4 separate regions of the Homo sapiens genome follow, and all the other regions are reported to be linked to region 2. The links are microRNA targets in miRTarBase. Many come from high-throughput screens and were not tested one by one. Region 2 holds a microRNA gene; each other region holds the end of a gene's coding sequence.
Evidence for each region. Region 2 holds the annotated microRNA hsa-miR-1976 (CCUCCUGCCCUCCUUGCUGU, at 3,480-3,499, opposite strand). A microRNA usually pairs through its seed, bases 2 to 8, with sites in the 3' UTR of a target mRNA and lowers its output. Matches are read on the target gene's strand: a 7mer-m8 pairs with bases 2 to 8, a 7mer-A1 pairs with bases 2 to 7 and ends in A, and an 8mer does both.

Region 1: the mRNA of ZNF566 is a reported target of hsa-miR-1976. Seed matches in the 3' UTR shown: 8mer at 2,798-2,805, 7mer-m8 at 2,817-2,823 and 8mer at 3,542-3,549.
Region 3: the mRNA of PLEKHM3 is a reported target of hsa-miR-1976. The part of its 3' UTR that is shown has no 7-base or 8-base seed match.
Region 4: miRTarBase lists CAV2 as a target of hsa-miR-1976. Seed matches in the 3' UTR shown: 7mer-A1 at 3,023-3,029 and 8mer at 2,905-2,912.

The regions. Positions count from the first base shown.
Region 1 is chr19:36,444,857-36,449,926 of GRCh38, reverse strand. ZNF566 (zinc finger protein 566) reads left to right here. Exons shown (of 5, transcript NM_001145344.1): 5 at 1-4,808. The coding sequence ends at 950. Among named protein-coding and RNA genes, the nearest start is that of ZFP82, 29 kb to the right of the region's middle. RefSeq lists an enhancer at 1-876.
Region 2 is chr1:26,553,004-26,558,072 of GRCh38, reverse strand. It overlaps MIR1976 (microRNA 1976), which reads right to left and starts at 3,531; the gene lies at 3,480-3,531. RPS6KA1 (ribosomal protein S6 kinase A1) reads right to left here. Exons shown (of 22, transcript NM_002953.4): 7 at 4,576-4,682; 8 at 3,822-3,859; 9 at 3,335-3,477; 10 at 2,852-2,922; 11 at 2,448-2,536; 12 at 1,355-1,419; 13 at 973-1,075.
Region 3 is chr2:207,823,988-207,829,057 of GRCh38, reverse strand. PLEKHM3 (pleckstrin homology domain containing M3) reads left to right here. Exons shown (of 8, transcript NM_001080475.3): 8 at 562-5,070. The coding sequence ends at 739. Among named protein-coding and RNA genes, the nearest start is that of FZD5, 57 kb to the right of the region's middle.
Region 4 is chr7:116,505,419-116,510,488 of GRCh38, reverse strand. It overlaps CAV2 (caveolin 2), which reads right to left. Exons shown (of 3, transcript NM_001233.5): 3 at 1,948-4,518. The coding sequence ends at 4,368. Among named protein-coding and RNA genes, the nearest start is that of CAV2, 8.2 kb to the right of the region's middle.

The DNA of each region.
Region 1 (5,070 bases), not on the chromosome of region 2:
AAATAATGGAAAAACTCACAAGACGTGATTTTCAGTGCTCCAGTTTCAGAGATGATTGGGAATGTAATCGGCAGTTTAAGAAAGAACTCGGCTCTCAGGGGGGACATTTCAATCAATTGGTATTCACTCATGAAGATCTGCCCACTTTGAGTCACCATCCATCCTTCACATTACAGCAAATCATTAACAGTAAAAAGAAATTCTGTGCATCTAAAGAATATAGGAAAACCTTTAGACATGGCTCACAGTTTGCTACACATGAGATAATTCATACCATTGAGAAGCCTTATGAATGTAAGGAATGTGGAAAGTCCTTTAGACATCCCTCAAGACTCACTCATCATCAGAAAATTCATACTGGCAAGAAACCCTTTGAATGTAAGGAATGTGGAAAAACCTTTATTTGTGGCTCAGACCTTACTCGACATCACAGAATTCACACTGGTGAGAAACCCTATGAATGTAAGGAATGTGGGAAAGCCTTTAGTAGTGGTTCAAACTTCACTCGACATCAGAGAATTCACACAGGTGAGAAGCCTTATGAATGCAAAGAATGCGGGAAGGCCTTTAGTAGTGGCTCAAACTTTACTCAACATCAGAGAATTCATACTGGGGAAAAACCCTATGAATGTAAGGAATGTGGCAATGCCTTTAGTCAGAGCTCACAACTTATTAAACATCAAAGAATCCATACAGGTGAGAAACCTTACGAATGTAAGGAATGTGAAAAGGCTTTTCGTTCTGGCTCAGACCTTACTAGACATCAGAGAATTCATACTGGGGAGAAACCCTATGAATGTAAGATATGTGGGAAGGCTTATTCTCAGAGTTCACAGCTTATTAGTCATCATAGAATTCATACTAGTGAGAAACCCTATGAATATAGGGAATGTGGAAAGAACTTTAATTATGACCCACAACTTATTCAGCATCAAAATTTGTACTGGTGATGAAACAGAATATATGAAATGTGTAGGGAGGCTTTTAATTATGGCTCAAAACAGAATTTATCTTGTTAATAATTCCTCTAGATAGAATAATGTAGAAACATTTTATTTGTGGACTACAGCTTATTCAGCCTGGGAAAAATAATGTTGGAGAAATACTCTATGAATAGAATATACTTTGGAAGCCCTTAACTAAACGCTTACTTCTCTTGACATCAGATAATTCAGTCTAGCAATATGATAGATAATTCAGTCTGTCATACTGAAAATGACAGCACTTTTAACACCTTTCTAACCTTCTTAACGTCAGAGAATTTTTGTAGAAATGTAGTCCTGTGATTGTCATTTTTTCCCCTAATTTCTCTAATTGTTACATTCTTAGTATTTTAATCCATATTAAATTTATATGGCTATAAATTTCATCTGTTTACATCCTGATTTGTATACTATTTTAAAAATACCTTTAGTACCTGGGAGAAGTGACCTCTTTATTTTTGAAGATGGCTTATTCTTTTTGTTCTTTATAACATTAAGGCTTTCTTATTGTAAAAATGTTCATGAACGACATTTTACTCAATAGAGATTCTTCATTATCTTCATGGTGTTTTGTTGTGTTACTGTAATATCACTTATGAAATCCTATTGGTGGATATCGTAGTCTCCTCTAGATATTTTGCCATAATACATGCCAAAATACAAGTCCCTGCTGGACATTCTCCCTAAGCACATCTTTGTATCATATCTTTTAATTGCAGAAGTAATGTGTGAATATATTTTCCTTATAAAAGATGCAAACATTACAAAAAGGCAAATGTACCCTTTGACCATATCCCAAAGGATAGTCTTTATCAGTTCATTATTTATTGCTGATCATTTTTCTGTTCATATATACATGCGTGTCTCAGTAAAAATTATAAAATGGGGGATAATTATAATACCTACCTCATAATGCTTTGTGAGGATTAAATGAATTAAGATCGATAAAGTGCTTAGAATTGTGCCTGACATGATAAATACATACTCACTGAATGTTAGTCATCGTTATTATATTCATCATCATCAGTATTATTATTTGTAGAAAGGCTTTTTAACTTCTGCAGAACTTAGTCACCATTAGGCAGGGTGTTTGACTGAAGAAAGACCCTTTGAAGGTAACAAGTTAAGAAAATTTCCCATCATCATGTACTTACTATTGAACATGAAATAATCCTAGGTGTTGGGGGGGAAAGTACTGTGAATAATGTGTGTGAAGGACTTTATTCCGACTAATACTCTTTTTGTCGCATTATATACCCAGTAAAAAAGAAAAGAGAACATAAGCAAAATATTGGTGCACTAATGAGGAAAAAAAGTATGAAAAGAGAAACAGCATCATATTTAAAAAATGGACAGAGATAGAAACATAGTTACAGATTTAAAAGGTTCTGTTGAATATTATGCTTTTTTCTAATATGTTTGAAAATTTAAACAAAATGGTTTTTAAGGAAAATATACATCAATATTGACTCCAAGAAAATTAGGACTCTTCAAAGACTCTCATAAACACAGAGAACAGGGAAAAATTAGCATGTGATCAGTTAACTATTACTAATGAAGCACCAAATCCAGTTTCTTTCTAAGGAAAACTTTATCAAATGTTCAAGGAACTATTTCAGTTATATAGAAGTACACATCTTGGCTCACGCCTGTAATCCCAGCACTTTGGGAGGCTGAGATGGAAGGATCATTTGAGGCCAGGAGCTTGAGACCAGCCTGGCCAACATGTTGAAACCCCATTTTTACTCAAAAATACAAAACTTAGCCAGGCATGGTGGCACATGCCTGTAATCCCAGCTACTGGGGAGGCTGAGGCAGGAGAATCACTTGAATGCAGGAGGTGGAGGTTGCAGTGAGCCAAGATCACGCCATGGCACTTCAGCCTGAGCGACAGAATGAGACTATTAAAAAAAAAAAAAAAAAGTCCACAGTGTAGCTTTGTTTGGGGTTAAGTTAGTGTTTTGAAATGGGCCTTCCCTGTGCTCAAAACATGCTCAGCAAGCAGCTCCCCACGCTGGACAGATCGCATATGTGGAAGGATGAAGTTTATGTCTGTAGAACTGTTATTTTATGCCCCACTTCCTTTTTTCTTAGATCCTGTGTAGACGGGTCTCTCTGAACATTGTGTTACTTTACTTTACTGGCATAAGGAAGTAAAATATTTCATAATAAATTTGAGAAAAGTAGAGTGAGCAAAAATACCTGCAAATGAGAGAATTACTAAAAATGGACTGTTGTAATGTTTTGCGTTATCAAAATGAAAACTGCCAAATGAGATTTTGTTTACTTTCTTTTCTTGTGTGCTTATGTCTTTTATAAAGTTCTTCATCTAAAATTATAGAGATAGTGCATTTGCACCCAAATTAATGAAACAATACCATTAAAGAGAAAGAAAAGGGGCTGGGCACAGTGGCTTACGCCTGTAATCCCAGTGCTTTGGGAGGCCAAGGCAGGGGGCAGCCTGGCCAATATAGTGAAACCCCATCTCTACTAAAAATACAAAAATTAGCTGGGCGTGGTGGCATGTGCCTGTAGTCCCAGCTGCTCGGAAGGCTGAGGCAGGAGAATCGCTTGAACCCGGGAGGCGGAGGTTGCAGTGAGCTGAGATCCTGACTGCACTCCAGCCTGCATGACAGAGTCTCAAAAAATCTGTCTCAAAAAAAAAAAAAAAAAAGAAAGAAAAAATGATTATCTTTGCCCTTCTCCGTTCCTCATTCCCTCCCCTCTGTCAATTTTCTTCTGAATAATATTTAAAGGTTGTGTATATTACCCATATATTTCTTCATGCTAAAACATTAACACACAATTATTTTATTATGTTTTTACAGAAAAATGGATAACTATACATTTCCCTGAAATTTGCTTTTTTACATTCAACTGTACATTTTGGATTTTCCTTCAATAGATGATGATCTAACAGTCTTTCTGATGGTTACAGTATGTTCCACAGTGTTATTTACCAATGCCTTTTCAACCACTTTCCCAATTGTGATATTATGGATTGTTTGCGCTTTTTTGCCATCTAAAAGTAATGCTGCAACAAACACTTTGTATTCTTGTCTGTTTTATTTCTATAAAATAAGCTTCCCAAGTCATTTCCAGTGTTTTTGCTTTGTTTTGTTTTGAGACAGAGTTTCACTCTTGTTTCCCAGGCTGGAGTGCAATGGCGCAATCTTGGCTTACTGCAATCTCCGCCTCCCGGGTTCAAGAGATTCTCCTGCCTCAGCCTCCCAAGTAGCTGGGGTTACAGGTATATGCCACTACGCCTGGAAAATTTTGTATTTTTAGTAGAGACGGCATTTTTCCATGTTGGTCAGGCTGGTCTCGAACTCCTGACCTCAGGTGATCCACCCTCCTCGGCCTCCCAAAGTGCTGGCATTATAGGCATGAGCCACCGCACCCGGCGTCATTTCCAGTGTTTTCTATGTTTCCTAGGAAGGTTTTGCTTCTGGAAGATTTCAGAGGGCAAGAGAATAAAGGAGTGGAGTGCAGTTTTTCATATATGTGATTCTGTGAGTGTGTATACACAGAGATTTAATATTTTAATACATCAGGAATTGATTATACGATCTAATGCAGGATGTCAGACTTGTTTCTATCCAGGAATAAAACCAGTTATGCCAGAAGTAACTATTATTCACCTTTCTCCTACTGAATTAAAATACTATCAGTTGTATATTAAATGCTCACATCTATTTCTGTTCTCCATATTCTAGCAATCCTTGACACTTTTCAATAGCTTTTATTACTTGGAAATAAAGATGTATGTATATATTATTAATATATAGTTTATTATTTGGAAATAAAGATGTTTCTTCATGAGAATTTTTGACTCATTTATTTTCCAATGAAAACCCCATTAGGATTATATTTTGAATTTCATTCAGTTTAAATGCAGAGTATCCTACATGAATAAACAATTGACACTGAATGGAATTCATTAACACATCTTGAGGTTTCTTTTATAACTCTTCATCCTCTTGACTCTCTAATATCTAATAATAACACCATCTACTGTGATGTCTCACAATACTTAAAATATGCTAGTAATACCTGAAAATTTATTAGAGTTCTGCTTATAAGGTGA
Region 2 (5,069 bases):
TGGATCACCTGAGGTCAGGAGTTCGAGACCAGCCTGGCCAACATGGTGAAACCCCGTCTCTACTAAAAATACAAAAATTAGCCAGGCGTGCTGACACATGCCTGTAATCCCAGCTACTCGGGAGGCTGAGGCAGGAGAATCTCTTGAACCCAGGAGGTGGAGGTTGCAGTAAGCTGAGATCACGCCATTGCATTCCAGCCTGGGCAACAGAGCGAGACTCCATCTTGAAAAGAGGAGAGGAGAGGGAAGGGAAGGAGAGGGAAGGGGAGGGGAGGGGAGGGGAGGGGAGGGGAGGAGAGGGGAGGGGAGGAGAGGAGAGAAGAAAAGCACACCCTCTCCTAAAACATGCCCTTATAGGAGGTTTCCCAGAACATTCCACCCCACACCCACTGTCAATATCTGGCCAAAAAGTTAGGATTCACCAGGTTCCTTCCCAGAAGCTCCCTCACTGGCTTCTTGTAGCAACCCCAGGGAATGAGTGGGTTTGTGGCTGTGCCCTTGTTCCAGATAAGTACACGGAGGCCGGGCAGTCAGGGCAGCCAAAGCTGATTCCCATGCCTGTCCCTGACCTATGGGCACTGTCACCTCTGCTCAGCCACCACACAGTGTGGCTGGGTCAGATTCTTTCTCCCTGACGTGATGGTAAGCCTGATGTGTTTGGTCTTCCCAGTGGGCTGGAAGGTGCCCCGGGCAGGGGTCCTGGCTTTTCTACTGTGGCCTTCACCACCCACACATCCCCACTCCCACTCTCTCACCAGACACAAAGAGACCCACAGAGCCCCATAGTGAGAGAGTCGGGCGGAGTGAGACAGGGACAAAGTCAGTCCCACGGAGCCAGAAACTCACCCGCCTGCCCACCCGCATACCTCGGCCTGTCAGTGTCCCTGACTATCTCTGCCCCCCAAGCTGCCACCGACTCCCGGCTTCCCTCCTGTACCAGCCCAAGACAGACAAAACAGATAAGGGACGCACCCTTGGGTGTGCGGGACGTGAACTCGGTGTCAAAGTAGAAGGTGTCATCAGGCTGAGCCACTGCTGGCTTGAAGGGTGGCTTGATCTCACGACGGTATAGCTTCTGCACAGTGGGGTGGGCACTCTGGTCACCATGGCATCCTCAACAGCCCACCAGGAGCCCCATGCAGGAGGAGGTGCTGGGCTTGGAACATAGGCCATATTGCCCAGCTCTCGGAATTGCTTGCCCTCAGGAGGCCAGCCCTTGTCTTCAAGGGCAGGCTGTGACCCTCTGCTCCTGCGTCTGGGGCCCTCGCTGGCAGAGGCTCCCCTCCCACCACCCTTCCTGTGGCCAAGATGGCTGAGCCCTGGCCAGAGCCCTGGTGTGGGTGGACACACTCACATTCCAGTCAATGGTGGAGTAGAAGACATGCCGCTTGATTTCCTCTGCCCCATCAGGGCCGGAGCCTGAAAGAGCCCAAATGAAGGGTCTGTCCCTGGCTGGCACAAGTCCCAGATATTACCCTGCCCACCAAGCAGCCTCACAGGGCTCTGGGACCAGCTGCTGGAGCAGAGGGGAAAATGGGCTCACTCAGCCTCAAATCTACCCAGCCATCACCCTAAGGCCTGTCACCTACTCAGCATTTTCCACTTTCTGGAGCTTCTGATGAAGAAATTCCAATGTACCAGTGGGAGGAGGAAGGCCCAGAGACTTTAGGCAACTTCTCCAAGGCCACACAGTTAGAACAGAAGCTGAGCTTGTTCTGAGACCTACAGAGAGCCCCACCTCATTCCAAGGCAAGCCTCATCTCTGTTCCTCTTATCCCATTGACCTTTTCAACCATAGGACAGGCTGTTACTCCATTCGACCCCAGGGGCCTTGACTGGACCTTACACAGCTGGTCATGGACCAGATGAACCCAGGAGCCAGGGAAGCCAGCACACACTGGACACCTACTACATGCCGGCATGTTCACACAACCTCATTTCATCAACAGAGCCCTGAAGCAAGCTTGGGATCATCATCTCCCATTGAGACGAGGAACCTGCGGTGCAGAGAGGTGAAGTCACCTGCCTGGGGTCACTTAGTTCATAAGTGGCCTCATTCGTTTAACAAATATTTATAGAGGGACTGTTTTGTGCCAGGCAGTGGGGACCTGACACAGAGCCGGGATTGGGACCTATGCCTTCTGACTCCTGAGCTCATGCTATTTCTCTTGTGCCAGCAGCCTTGGCGGAGAAGCTGTGTGGGGGCCTCTGTCCTTGTCCCCAGAGGGAGTAGGGATGACTCAGTTCCTGCCTTCCCCCTACACACAGGTCAACTCCCCCCTCCACAACACCACACATGGAGCCAGAAAGCAGGGTGGCCCGCGGCATTGTCTGCCCACACAAAGGACAACGGCCCCTTTCAGCCCAGATGTGGCCCTGTGGCCTAGGCTGCAGCTGTACCCGGCTCCCCATCGCCACATCCCCTCCCCTGAGCTGGGGCTGCTTACCGAGCCGGTTGGCAGGATTCCGCTTGAACAGGGCCCGCAAGAGGCTCTGGGCTTCAGTGCTCAGAAACTGGGGCATGCCTAGCTTCGCCCTGAAACAGCCCCCGGGACTCATCAAGGCTGAGCCCTGCCCCAGAGGCCCCATCTCCCCCGGCCCCTGTCCAGATCTAGTTCCCAGCTCAGTCTAGACAAGCCATCCACTAATTCACTTCCCAAAGGCTTCAGGGATCCTACCCACAGGCCCCCAGGGATGAAAGAGGGGCTCTGGAAGGTATAATGTTTAACCCAGAGGAGAGTCTCATTAGAGAGGGTAGCTGAGGCAGGGACAGGGTAATAATATTCTGACCCCCAAACTGGGGCTGGGGCTTGGAGGAGTCCATTGTTATCAGGGCAGGGCTGGGGCTTACTTCAGAATCAGTGTCATGGTCTCCTTCCGGTCCTTCCCCTGGAAGGGCAGGGAGCCCGTCAGCATCTCAAACTGCAGAGGACAAGGATCTATTCAGGCTCTGATCCCTGTCTCCGACACACCTCCCGCCTCCTCCCAGTCAGACCCCTCTGCCCCAGTCCCAGGATTCTTGCTGATACATCCAAGTCAGCCTGGAGCAAGAATTATGCCCGTCCCTCTTGCCTCTGCCAACCAGACCACCAGGAGCAGCGGTGGGGGCGCGAGGCTGGGGAGAAGGCCAGCACTGGGTTAGGCGCGTCCCAGGTGGGGTCAAGCCTGGGATCCTTCCAAGGAAGAAAACTGCAGGTGCATATAGGGTGAGGCCAGCTTGGCTGTGAGAGGAGACGGGGAGAGCCCTAGAAATGATCAACCCCCTCACTGTACAGATAGGGAGACTGAGGCCAGAGGCTTGGGCTGGATCCTTTACCCCTGTCTGGGCACTCACCATCAACACCCCATAGGACCACCAGTCCGCACTATGGGAGTGGCCCTGGCGGTTGACGACCTCAGGGGCCATGTACTCCACTGTCCCGCAGAAAGAATAGGCCTTCTTCTCGTGGTCAATGGCCTCTTTGCTCAGGCCAAAGTCTACAGCAAGGAGGGCAGGAGGACACACCTTAGGACCCCTGCCTTCCTTGCTGCCACCCTTTGCACACCCAACCCCCGTGCCCAGAGGCCAGAAGGCATCACCCCCATGACACTCAGGAGGAAGCTAAGGCCCAGAGAGGTCAGGTGACTTGCTCAACGTTACACAATGAGGGGCTGGGATTCCAGCTGAGGGTGTTCCAAGTCTGAGGCCTGAGTTTTTGACCACTTCCAAGTAACTGGCACGGCTTCTCGGGAAGAATGAGCCCCCAGCACTCAGCCGAGACCTATCATGACCTTGTCCTGTCCTCCCCTGGGTCCCGAGGGGGCAGGCGCCCTCCACTCACCAGTGAGTTTGATGTGGCCCTCCTCATCCAGAAGGATGCTGTAATAGAGAAATAGTGGTCAGGGCCCCTCAGCTGTGGCCGTGTGGGTGATGGTGTTACCACAGGGCTGTGGGAGTTGGGTTCAGCCCAGAGGAGGTGCTCCACCCAATTCTCTCTGATGACTGGGCGGGTGTTGCAGGGTGGTAGCAGTACCACGCAGGGGTGTTGCCTATCTTTTTTGCTAATCCTTGAAGCAACTGTGTGAGGCAAGTACTATTAGGGCCCCGTTTTGCTAATGGGAAAACTAAGGCTCAGGGCAGTTAAGTAGCTCTACAGTCATTGAGCTAGTAAGTCTAGCTAGTAGGTGGAGACAGGATTTGAATACAGGGCTGCCTAACACTAAAGCCAGATCTTATTCCAACTCACCACCTGCCCCTGGCTCCTTAGTTATCATTTGAGGGTAGTTAGATATTAGGGAAAATTCTATAGGGCTTTATCAAGGAAAGACCTCTAAAGGTGGCATCTCAAATGTCACACTAGATTAGCAAAAAAAGACGGGCAACATTACCTGCATGCAAAGTACCTGGCCCTTGGTAATGGTAGCATTAGTGACTGGGCAGCTGGCACTACCACCCACCCCACTCACCCATCCCTCAGATTGCCCAAGAGAGGGAGACGTTTCTGGAGAAAGCCATGCCCACCCACCTCAGGATGGCCCTGTCCTAGAAGAGGCCTCCCCTGGGGAGGCTGGGGTGGGGCTGGAGGCTTCACTCACTTCTCAGGCTTGAGGTCTCTGTAAATGATACCCAGGCTGTGCAGGTGATCCAGGCCCAGAGCCAGCTCAGCCAGGTAAAACTTCACATCCTCCTCCGTGAACATCACCTGCAAAAGACAGGAGGGGCCTTCAGCAGGGACCTCCTCTTCCTTAAGAGCTGGGGCACTGGGCAGTCAGCAGCTTCCTGGTCCTGAAGAGCCACCCTGGGAGGACCCTTGGAAACCCCAGGCCATATAGCCTTCTCATCATACAAAGGATTTGAAGTATGAAATGACTAATACGCAAGCCACTCATTGTGGCACCATTCAGAAATAGAAGGGGTGGGAAACAGGCCTAGGGTCCAAGAGTAGAAGGCTGGAATCAGCCCTCTCCCCTGCATAATGGAGTGCTTTGCAGCCATGAACTGGAACAAGGAGTTTCTCCGTGTTCTGACATGGAGTGAGCTCCAAGATATACTATCTTGAAAAAAGCAAGGTACAGAACAGTGTATACAG
Region 3 (5,070 bases), not on the chromosome of region 2:
TTTAAAAAACTCACAAGATTTCATAGACCACAGGATGTCATTCAGAAAATGAAAATGTGTCATTTTATCTTTTCAAACTGTCAAATAAAGGCAGCTAGTTAACAGAGAACCACTTAGCTCGTGTTAACTGATGTAGAAAGCTGCCTCGCCATGGATGTAACGCTGTGGCTGTCACTGGTGTGCCGAGCGTTTTCACGAGGCACTCCCCTCTCATTTTCTGTCATTTCACTCTAGAGTCACTGCCAATTCCCTTCTCAATGGAGAGCTTCTGGTGTTCTGTCCATTGTCACTATAACCAGAATTGCTGGGTGACTGCGGACTCCCCCCCACTCATAAGCCCTAGTTCAGATCAGAAAAGCAAAAATGTTTTTCAAGTGAAATTCAACCTTGAGCATTTTGGAAAAACAAACAGTTCATTTCAGTGAGTCATCTCCCTTCCCATTGGCAGGGTTGTCCAGAACAGTAGATTGTGCCACCAGCTGCACCTGAGGCCACAGGGCTTCCCATTTGTGTCTTGCTGGCTTCAGTCTTGCTCATCATATCCATGGTTGACTTTTGCAGGTGTGAAAGCTGTGGAGCCGTTTTCCATTCTGAATGCAAAGAAAAGTCTGTCCCCTGCCCGAGGTGTGTTCGCCGAGAGCTGCAGAAGAAGCAGAAGTCTTTCTGGCAGAGACTGAACATGGACGAGAGTCTAGAGGAGGCTTGCACCATGTTCGAGCTGTCCTACCAGAACACCTGACTCCAGCCGACCCGAAGGCCAGGGATTCACCAATCAACAATCCATCAGCCCCAGAGCGGCCTCCTAACTAGCCAGTTAGACCCCTTTGGAAGAAGAGTATGTATCCTCTTCAACTAGATATAGATATATATATTTATTTATATATACGCAAATACCTATACGTCCTGTACGTATGCTCTGTGTACATCATTGTCCAGACGATCCACAGAACCTCTGTGGCTCGAGAAACTACCAATAGCTGGATTACACTTAGCCAAGAATTTCAGCTGCTTGCTCCCAGACAAAACGTGGTATACACAATGCTTTATAGTTCAGACTTTTTTTTTCTCTCTGTCTCTCGGTACATTTTATTACCCAAGACACAAAAGGAAGCATTTCCTGCACAAAACAGTGCTTTAGGTTATTTTTGTGTTATTTATTTTTAGCCTTCACAGAGGCTGAGGTAACTGAGGCAGGCACCCATCATCATCTGTTTCATAAGAAAACCTTCAAAACACAAGAGACTGCTGGGTCCTTCCAGGACCTGGTGTCCGTGGCGCTCCCGCCTCAGTTCCTCCTGTGGAGGCGGGGAATCACGTAAGCAGAGCCGATGGCTGGAAACAGGAGCCAAGCCCCCTCTGACAGAAAGCATACACCCCTCATTTATGAGGAGGGCTGGTTCTGGTTTTGAAGTTAATCTCAGAAGTTTTTTTCCTGAGAAGAGAAGAAACCTCTGCGACCAATAACTGCGTGTTGTCGGTCTGTTTTTCGGTACTAATCCCATCACCCACCTAATGATGTGACGCTCCACCGTGTTTTCCAGGCTGTACACATGGCTTTCTTAACAGTTTTCAACGGGTGCCCATGGTTGATATTTATGATTTTTTTCATGATGCTGGCCGGAGGAAATGTCCTGGGGTGGTTGTTAAAGACATCGTCGTGTAGACTGGTAGATAAGGCTATCTAGTAAGTATATTCCCAAAGAGGGTCGTTTTAGTTTCTTTTCTCAGAATCCTGTGGAGGCAGTTCCTACCTATTCATTTTAAGTGCTTTATTTCTCGTTGTTCTTCCTGCACTTTCATTTCGACCTTTGTCAATGTGACCATTCTTGCTTTCTCATTTTTTTGTTTAAAAAATCAGAGTAATGTGGAACTTCAAAATACCAACTTTGGACTATTAAGAAAATACAAACTTACAAGTATAATTAATGAATTAGATCTAATATTATTTAAATAAATATATATATATACACACACATATATAATTGCCACCTTGAAGTAAAACAAAGAGTGCTAAAATAAATAATAGGAGTAAGAAAGAGATCTGCTTTGCTATTTGGCAGGTAGTGTTCTCCAGCTGCAGTGCCCTTGGAAGAGCACGTGGCAGTCACTGTGACCAAAACGGCAGGTAGGACAGCCCTGGGACCCTGACAGCTCCCATTCCTTCCCCTTAACTCTCCCTAGAGCAAGAAAAATATGTTTATAATGGAACAGTTCTCAGTAGACTTTATGAGAAGATTCTGTAGCTTTCGCGCTGAGCAGATGCCTTCTATGTCTTCATGGTTTAGTAGTTTTGCTGCTATTAGGATCAGTGGCTCACAACATACTTGGTACATTCAACCCCATTGCTCCTTTCCCCCACACGCCGCTTCCCCAAGACCCCAACTCATGATACTTCCATCCATCTAGAGATGTGACATTTCAGACTGACTTTTGTGCAGTTAGATGTAAGCATTTTACCTCTCAACCCACACCAGTTCCTTTGGCCCCAGGCCACACATTTCACCTTAATAGCTCAACACCATACATGCATTTATTTTCTGACTATACAGTAGCCGCAACCAAGGCTTGAAAACTTGTTAAAAGGCCAGGGCCCTATTCATGAGACGCCTGACGGTGCCTTTTACCCTTAGAAAAGCAGGTTGACTTTTCCCCCACTCTAGTTAAAGAGAATGTTGCACACAAAAGAAAAAGGGTGGAAAATCTCAAACACTTGGCAACAGGCAAACAAATTTGATCATCTCCTTTCCTCCTCCTCTTGGTAAAATACAGTATTTATATTTTCCAGCCTCAGAGAAGATAGCAGAACATGATCTTTCACAAGAGAATTATAGACCTGCTTATTATAAAACAGATGTGCTCCCATGGCAAAGTGCCTTCTCCCTCCGCCCCCAGCTCCCTGTCACTGTAGCTTACTTTTGCCTTCGCTGTAATTAATGTATCCGTGATTCCAACTGTCAGCGAGGCCATTCCTAGCACACTGCATTTGGAGACCTGAAGTGCAGTGCCATCTCCTCCCCTTGTAACATGTTTGCCCTGCATACAGAATTTCCTCTCCTAGCTCACAGGCACCCAGGGTCATACCTGCCGAGAGTCAAGGGCGAAATTCTGGATCCCCGTTCAAAACATCTTTGTTTTCACCAGTCCCCATTTAGAGGGCCCTGCTAAATACGAGCAGTCCCTGTGAACTCCTAAGGAGGACTTTCCACCCACATCATTTTCTGCTTATTTTCAAAAGGGAAACAAAAAATCGATGTGTTATCACCATCAGCTACCCAGAGCTGGGTCCATGTCCAGCACTCCTGTTTCCTCTCCTTTTCGTACCACCCTGACAGCTTGGTCGGTGCCAGCCACAGGCCTATGACATTCTCTGCCACCACCACCAAAATCTGATAGGACAGAGTGGAGCCAGCTTAGGAGTTGGGTCTGCCATGAAAATTCAAAATTGCTGTTTTCAGCCCAGAATACCTTGGCGCACATGAACGCCCTTACTGTTTTCAACTTTAACAAATTACTTGGTGCACTGTTAGGTAATTGTTCCACTGCTTAGAAACTGTCGAAACAAAAGCAAATCTGTGGATTACCACCTCTTTCAGACCAAACTAATACCTGCTTTTCCTCGTGTTCCATTTTTCATCCCATATTAAATATCTTGCACATAAAACATATGAAAAAATGGCCAATTAATCTCCTGGAGCTGGCAACTGACTCCGGGGAACCGCTTTTTGCTGAAAGGCTCATTCCCTAGTGTATCACTTGAGGAAATCCCTCCTAAAAGTGCCAGAAACTCATGTGTGAGATCGTCCAACCCTGGTGAAATGTTGGCATCTAACCCCGCAGTAAAGAAGCCAGTTCCTAAAATAGACCTCATTTTGCACCGCGGCAGGAAGGCCACAAAGTACTTAAAAAGCCGTCAACTGGAATGGGGGTAGTGTTCTTTCCAGGCCCGCTTTTTCCAAAGTTAAAAGCCTCTTTATATGAAAACCATGTAAACTCTCAGCAGCCCCCTTTGCTTCACTGCCTTTTCTAGGGAGTGCATTAGAGTCATTTTTACGTCTGTAGTGCTAAAGGGTCACCTAGTTAGGAGCTTTAACATCGGATTCGCTGAGAGGGTCATCGGTTTTTGATTCTTCTAGAGTAGGCCTCCACCAAGAAGGGAATACGTCTAATACTTGGGATCTGTGGTTTGCAACACAAGTGGTATCCCTCAGACTCCTGAAAAGGGACTATGCCGTGACTTCCTTCCGGCTGCAGTGAGATCCGAGGTGTTTACACCACCCTAGTTGCCGAATGCAGCCTTTGCTCAGCTAGAGTGTGTCCTCTGACGGAGCCTGGCCTCTGTTTTTGTCTCTGTGTGTTGTGTGTACACACTGAACGTGGACATCGGATAGTTCTTTTCTGTGCCTCCTCAGAGAGGCTTGGCTTCCAAACCTGGGAGTTTGTTCTCTACCCATTGGCTAGAAAAGGCCGTCCATAAATTAGTATATCCAGGTGGGACTAGCACGATGCCACGCACACTGAACATTTTCTGCAGAGGGGCGTTAGCAGTGGAAGTAGAGACACATTCTGGTCCTCCTTTAGAGTCAAGCCAATGCTGTTGCTCGTGTATTTGTGCACAATTATTCATCTCCGTTGATCTGACACACTCTCTTGAAATCACTAGATTATGAAACAGATCTTCACCTCCTGATTCCAATACTGCCTGGTTTCAACACAGGGGTTGTTTTATTTTTTTACTTCTCCTAGTAAATAGAGATGTGTATAATTTTTGCCCATTTTATTTCTTGAGTTGTCTGCACCACTTCTTTTCTTACTCTGAAATAATGTGAAAACGTGAAGTTGGAGCAAGACCTTGAAAGAGCCTCCCTCCTTTGCGTGACCTGAATCGGTAGCGGCACTCTCTGTTTCCCCTGCCTCCGTGTCACTTGTTAGTGATGGGCATTAGGAGCTTCATATGTTGCACACCTTGTATCACTCTTCCGACCCTGAGTCAGGTAGAGCTGTCTGCTCGAGGTCGAATCCAGTGATGGGTGACTAAGCTCTGCTCGGTTAATGTAAACAGACAAGTGTTGA
Region 4 (5,070 bases), not on the chromosome of region 2:
ATTTATTTACATAATCATTCATACAGAAAATATTGATGGAACTCATTAAGCACTGGGCACCATTTCAGAATCCCAGCAAACGTGAAGTGATGTTTTTGGTTCTCAAATACCTAACTAGCAGTCTAATGGTATTAGTTAACAGGGTTACTTTTACAACGTGACAGGTGATAATAGGAATTTGTACAACATTTTAGATGTAGACACAGAAGAGGCACTTAATGTGGAAGAGTTTTGGAAACAGATAAGAGTGAGGCAGGCATGAGAAGAAAAACAATGCTGGCATGGGTACACAGGAGTAGCACGGGTTGTTCAGTAAAGCTACAGAAGAGTTGCTAACGATGACAACGGGTTGATGGCGAAGGCCTTGCATATGCTGCTCAAGAACTTGGAATATTATTCTCAGGGCAATCACATACAATTGATAGTTTTAAGCAAGGAAATGACAGGGTAGTCTTGGTATAATCACGTTTTTTTTAAGAGAAAAATGGATTGGTGATCATATTGAAGGCAGGAAGTGAGGTCAGTTAGGAGGCTGTGGCAAATAGCCAGGCAAAAGAGAAAGATGGCAGTGATTATGGGGCATAGCAGTGATTTTGACAGAAAATCTTAAAATGAAATAGAGTCATTCCTCGGTACCCTTGAGGGATTGGTTCTAGAATTCCCCTGCAGATATAAAAATCCTTGCATACTTAAATCCCGTCATCCCTGCAGAACCCAAGGAGGTGAAAAGTCAGCCCTCCTTGTCTGAGGGTTTTGCATCTTGCAATACTCTATTTTGGATCCAGTTTGATGGTGGATGAGGAACCTGTGGATACGGAAGGCTAACTGTATTTACTGAAAAAAAATCTGAGTATAAGTGGACTGAGCAGTTCAACCCCATGTTGTTAAAGGTTCAATCGCAAATTCTAATTAAGATATAATTTTTTTCAGAAATTCATAATAATAAAGACTTAGCATTGATAAAAATCTTAGGATCTCTGTTTTAATGAATTGAGGCCAAATACAGTCTCACAATCAATAGAAGGGTGAAAAGTACATGCATTAATTATTGTATTTATAGCACACCTATCCTGTAATTGATTGAAAATTCACTGATTTAAAAAAATATTTTTGGACTGGACAGCTAGGTTGGTTTTCATATACATAGCCAAGTTTTCATCCTGCTGAAGTCACAGAAAACAATGAGATAGGAAGCTCCTGAGAGACCATTTAGTTCAATTCTTTCATTAACGATAAGAAAACTGAGAACCCAAGATTAAACCCTTTGCATGAAGGGATACACCTCAATAACGGCAATGCTGAGACTGGAATCCAGTTGCCTGACTTCTAGGGCAGGGCTTTTTTCACTACACTCCAACAACTTTCCAAGAGAGGCATCAAAATAAATTAATGGGATGTGGATGACTATCAAAAAGATGAATTTTTAAAAGTTCCTGAAAACTATAAAGAACATTTTAAAAAGCCAAGCACCTGCTTTATTATTATAGGTTGGTCGTTTTTCCAGATGAACTGACAAGAAAATGTATGCCAACATCAGCAACTACTCTTCACATACTCACTTTCCAAAAATAATTTTGGACTCTAGTCTAGCTTCATGGTACAGGTATCCAAGTGCCTGTGATTTATATTGTTACTTTCTTATTTTAAAAATTGGAAACAAATTTCAGTTTATTTAGGATTAGCAAGAAGAGACTATAAAAAAGAAGAAGTATGGTGGGTGTGTGAACAGGCTATTTTATACTATTCATCAAATGATAGAACATTTATATGGAACCTCTTTAAGTGCTGGAAAACAAAGAATTCAACTACTAATGTAATAATTTTTAAAAATACATTCCCAAATAAGCAATAACTAATGTATTTATTATCTATTTTGAGTTTTTAATAAGGTAAAAATAAGTATGAAAGATTCCATATTTACTGTAATAAAAGCAATACACACATTTGTAGGCTTTTAGAAAATTTATTATGAATTCCGAGAAGTCTGCTCATCATATACCTCCCCCAGCCCCAAATAAAACAAACAACATGTTTGTACATAAAGCCTGGATTTACTTGGTACAAAATTTGAGTCTTTGAAAAAAATAGTTAATGGAAAATCTCAATAAAAATTCATTTTGAAAGTAACCAGTACTGTTCAGAAATAAGGAAGTCATGTTACTTGAGAAGTCAAACAGTTTTATTACAGAACTATGTGTATATATTTTGGGTTTAAAACTTGCCAATAGCTGTTTGAAAGGATAGCTCATAATTTATTCAAATAGATATTTTATTAATCAAATGTTTTTGGTTTATCAACATAACCAAATGTATAAAAAATGTTTTTAAATACAAGACATAACTATAAAGTCATGAGGCTGATTGACCTTTTAAACTAACATAATAAAATCTATATGGTCAAAATGAGTGGTGATGCTTTAAGGTAATGATTATGCGTCCCATCTAAGGATGCTGCAATGGCCTAGGGCAGTTTTGAAATGTCTCTTTGCAACTACCTTCAAAAGGATATGAGCTTCATAATTTAATCATTCATTTGATTTGGTCCCCAATATTATTCCAGTTCAATCATCATTTATATTCACCAGTCCTGGCGATTTTGAAAAATCTTATTAATCTTATTTGTCACTTATTAGCGTATTCAAAGGAATGTCAATTGAGGTTCTGATGGTAATTCTGAAATTTAAGCATTTACACACTTTTAAGATGTGTAAATTTTAGTAACTACTCACATTATAGACTTGTTTTTGGTATATGTCTATCATTTTGAAATAATGAGATTTTTCTTTTTTCTTTTTTTCTTTTTTTCTTTTTTTTTTTGAGACAGACTCTTGCTCTGTTGCCAGGCGGGAGTGCAGTGGCATGATTTTGGCTCACTGCAACCTCTGCCTCCCAGGTTCAAGCAATTCTCCTGCCTCAGCCTCCCAGGTAGCTGGGACTACAGGTGCATGCCACCATGCCCAACTAATTTTTTTGTATTTTTAGTAGAGACGGGGTATCACCATGTTGGCCAGGATGGTCTTGATCTCCTGACCTCATGATCCACCCGCCTTGGCCTCCCAAAGTGCTGGGATTACAGGGGTGAGCCACCATGCCCGGCCCAGAAATAATGAGATTTTTCAAAGCAACAGTGATTCATCACACTGAAATAGGACTCTACAGTTCAAAATGACAAGAATAACTTTATCCTGTGTTACATACCAATATTAGAGAAATCTTAAAAGTTTGTAGCTGTTAGTTTTTAGTTTATGCATGTAGTTCAGTAGCCCAAGTTGACAACTCCCCTGTCTCTCTACATGAATCACTGTAGTTGAAATTGTACTAAAGTATCAGAAGTAACATTTACTGTAAAATGTTAAATAGCACCAATATTACTTGAAAGTAAAGTGAGACATTAATAGGAATGCTGACACAGATTTAATTTCTAACTACTAGAGAGAAAGCATCTCCTAGACAAAATACTATTTAGATATGAATTATTTTAAGATCACAGCCAGAAAAATGTCATAAAACATTTTAGATTTTGCTTGGAAAAGTTAGAAAAGAAAGCTTTGTGTATCGCTCTTTTATCTTTTATTTCCAAAGAAGATGTACAAATGCTTACATAATCAGAACAGTGCAATCTTACCAATGAAGTTTACCTTGTGGGAGCTACATTTACTTATTTCATATATTAGTTCAACAACATAAATATAATAAAAATGCTTTTAAGCAATCTGATTAGAGCAACATTTATATTAACTACAAAATATACAGTAAAATGAAACATCTTGTTAAATAGGCCTGTAGGAAAACAATATTTTAAAGGAATACATTTTCATGAATCTACTTTCATATTTATTTGTTTTATTGTATCTTATAGTTACTATAATCGTTGTGTGCTTTTGTTACTGCAATTTCCAGGATCATTGTATATTCTCAGTATGCCAGTGACTATATATGTAAAGGTAATTTAAAAAGTATTACTCCCAGAGTAAAAACAGACAAACAAATAAGAAATCTCATTTTTAATGGGAAGTTGTGCATAAAACTATTGTAGTATTTTTATAGAAATGTCCCTTAATCATTATAAGTTCATCATTATAAAATGTATACTATTGTACTAAAGCAAAACTGTCTGCCTTTAAATCTAAGTGGTGTCAACTTACTGTATAATTCTGGTTACAAAGTTAGATATGAAATCTTTGGCTATTAATTAGAAAAGCATTATTTGAAAAGACCTGTCAATAAACATTTCTAAATGTGGTTGCTCATCTTAATAGTTTTCTTAATTAGAACAGCTAGGAAATGAACAGAACAGTGGTGCTTTTATGTTATAATAACAAAGAAGTATTACAGTATCCCAATCTCCAGACCTGGGGTCCAAGTATTCAATCCTGGCTCAGTTGCAGGCTGACAGAAGAGAAGCATCGTCCTACGCTCGTACACAATGGAGCAATGATAACATCTGTCACACTCTTCCATATTGTCTGCACTGAAGGCAGAACCATTAGGCAGGTCTTTACAAAAGGCATTAAAATCCTGGAAGGAAGGAAGAGAGATGTGTGAGGATTGTTGCTGTTACCAAATAAGGTCTGTCTTGTACATGTATGAAAAGATAAAATACTGACCCATTTACTTAAATTTGGTTGAGAGTTTGAAACAAATAAATGAACAATGATCACTGATAATGATTTGGGTTTTTTGTCCCCCTGACTCTCATTTTGAAATGTAGTCCCCAGTGTTGGAGGTGGGGCCGAGTGGGGATAATTGGATCACAGCGGGTAGATCCCTCATGAATGTCTTAGTGCCTGCCACCCTCTTGGTAACGTGAGTTCTCACTCAGTTAGTTTGCTTGAGATCTGATTAACTAAAAGAGTCTGGGACCTCCACATTCTCTCTCTTGCTCCCTTTCTTGCCATGTGACGTGCCTGCTCCTCCTTCTCCTTCCACTATAAGTGGAAGCTTCCTGAGGTCCTTGCCTAAAGTAGATGCTGGCACTGTGCTTCCTGTACAGCCCGCAGAACTGTGAGCAAAAATAAACCTCTTTTCTTTATAAATAACCTAGTCTCAGGTATTCCTTCATAGTAATGC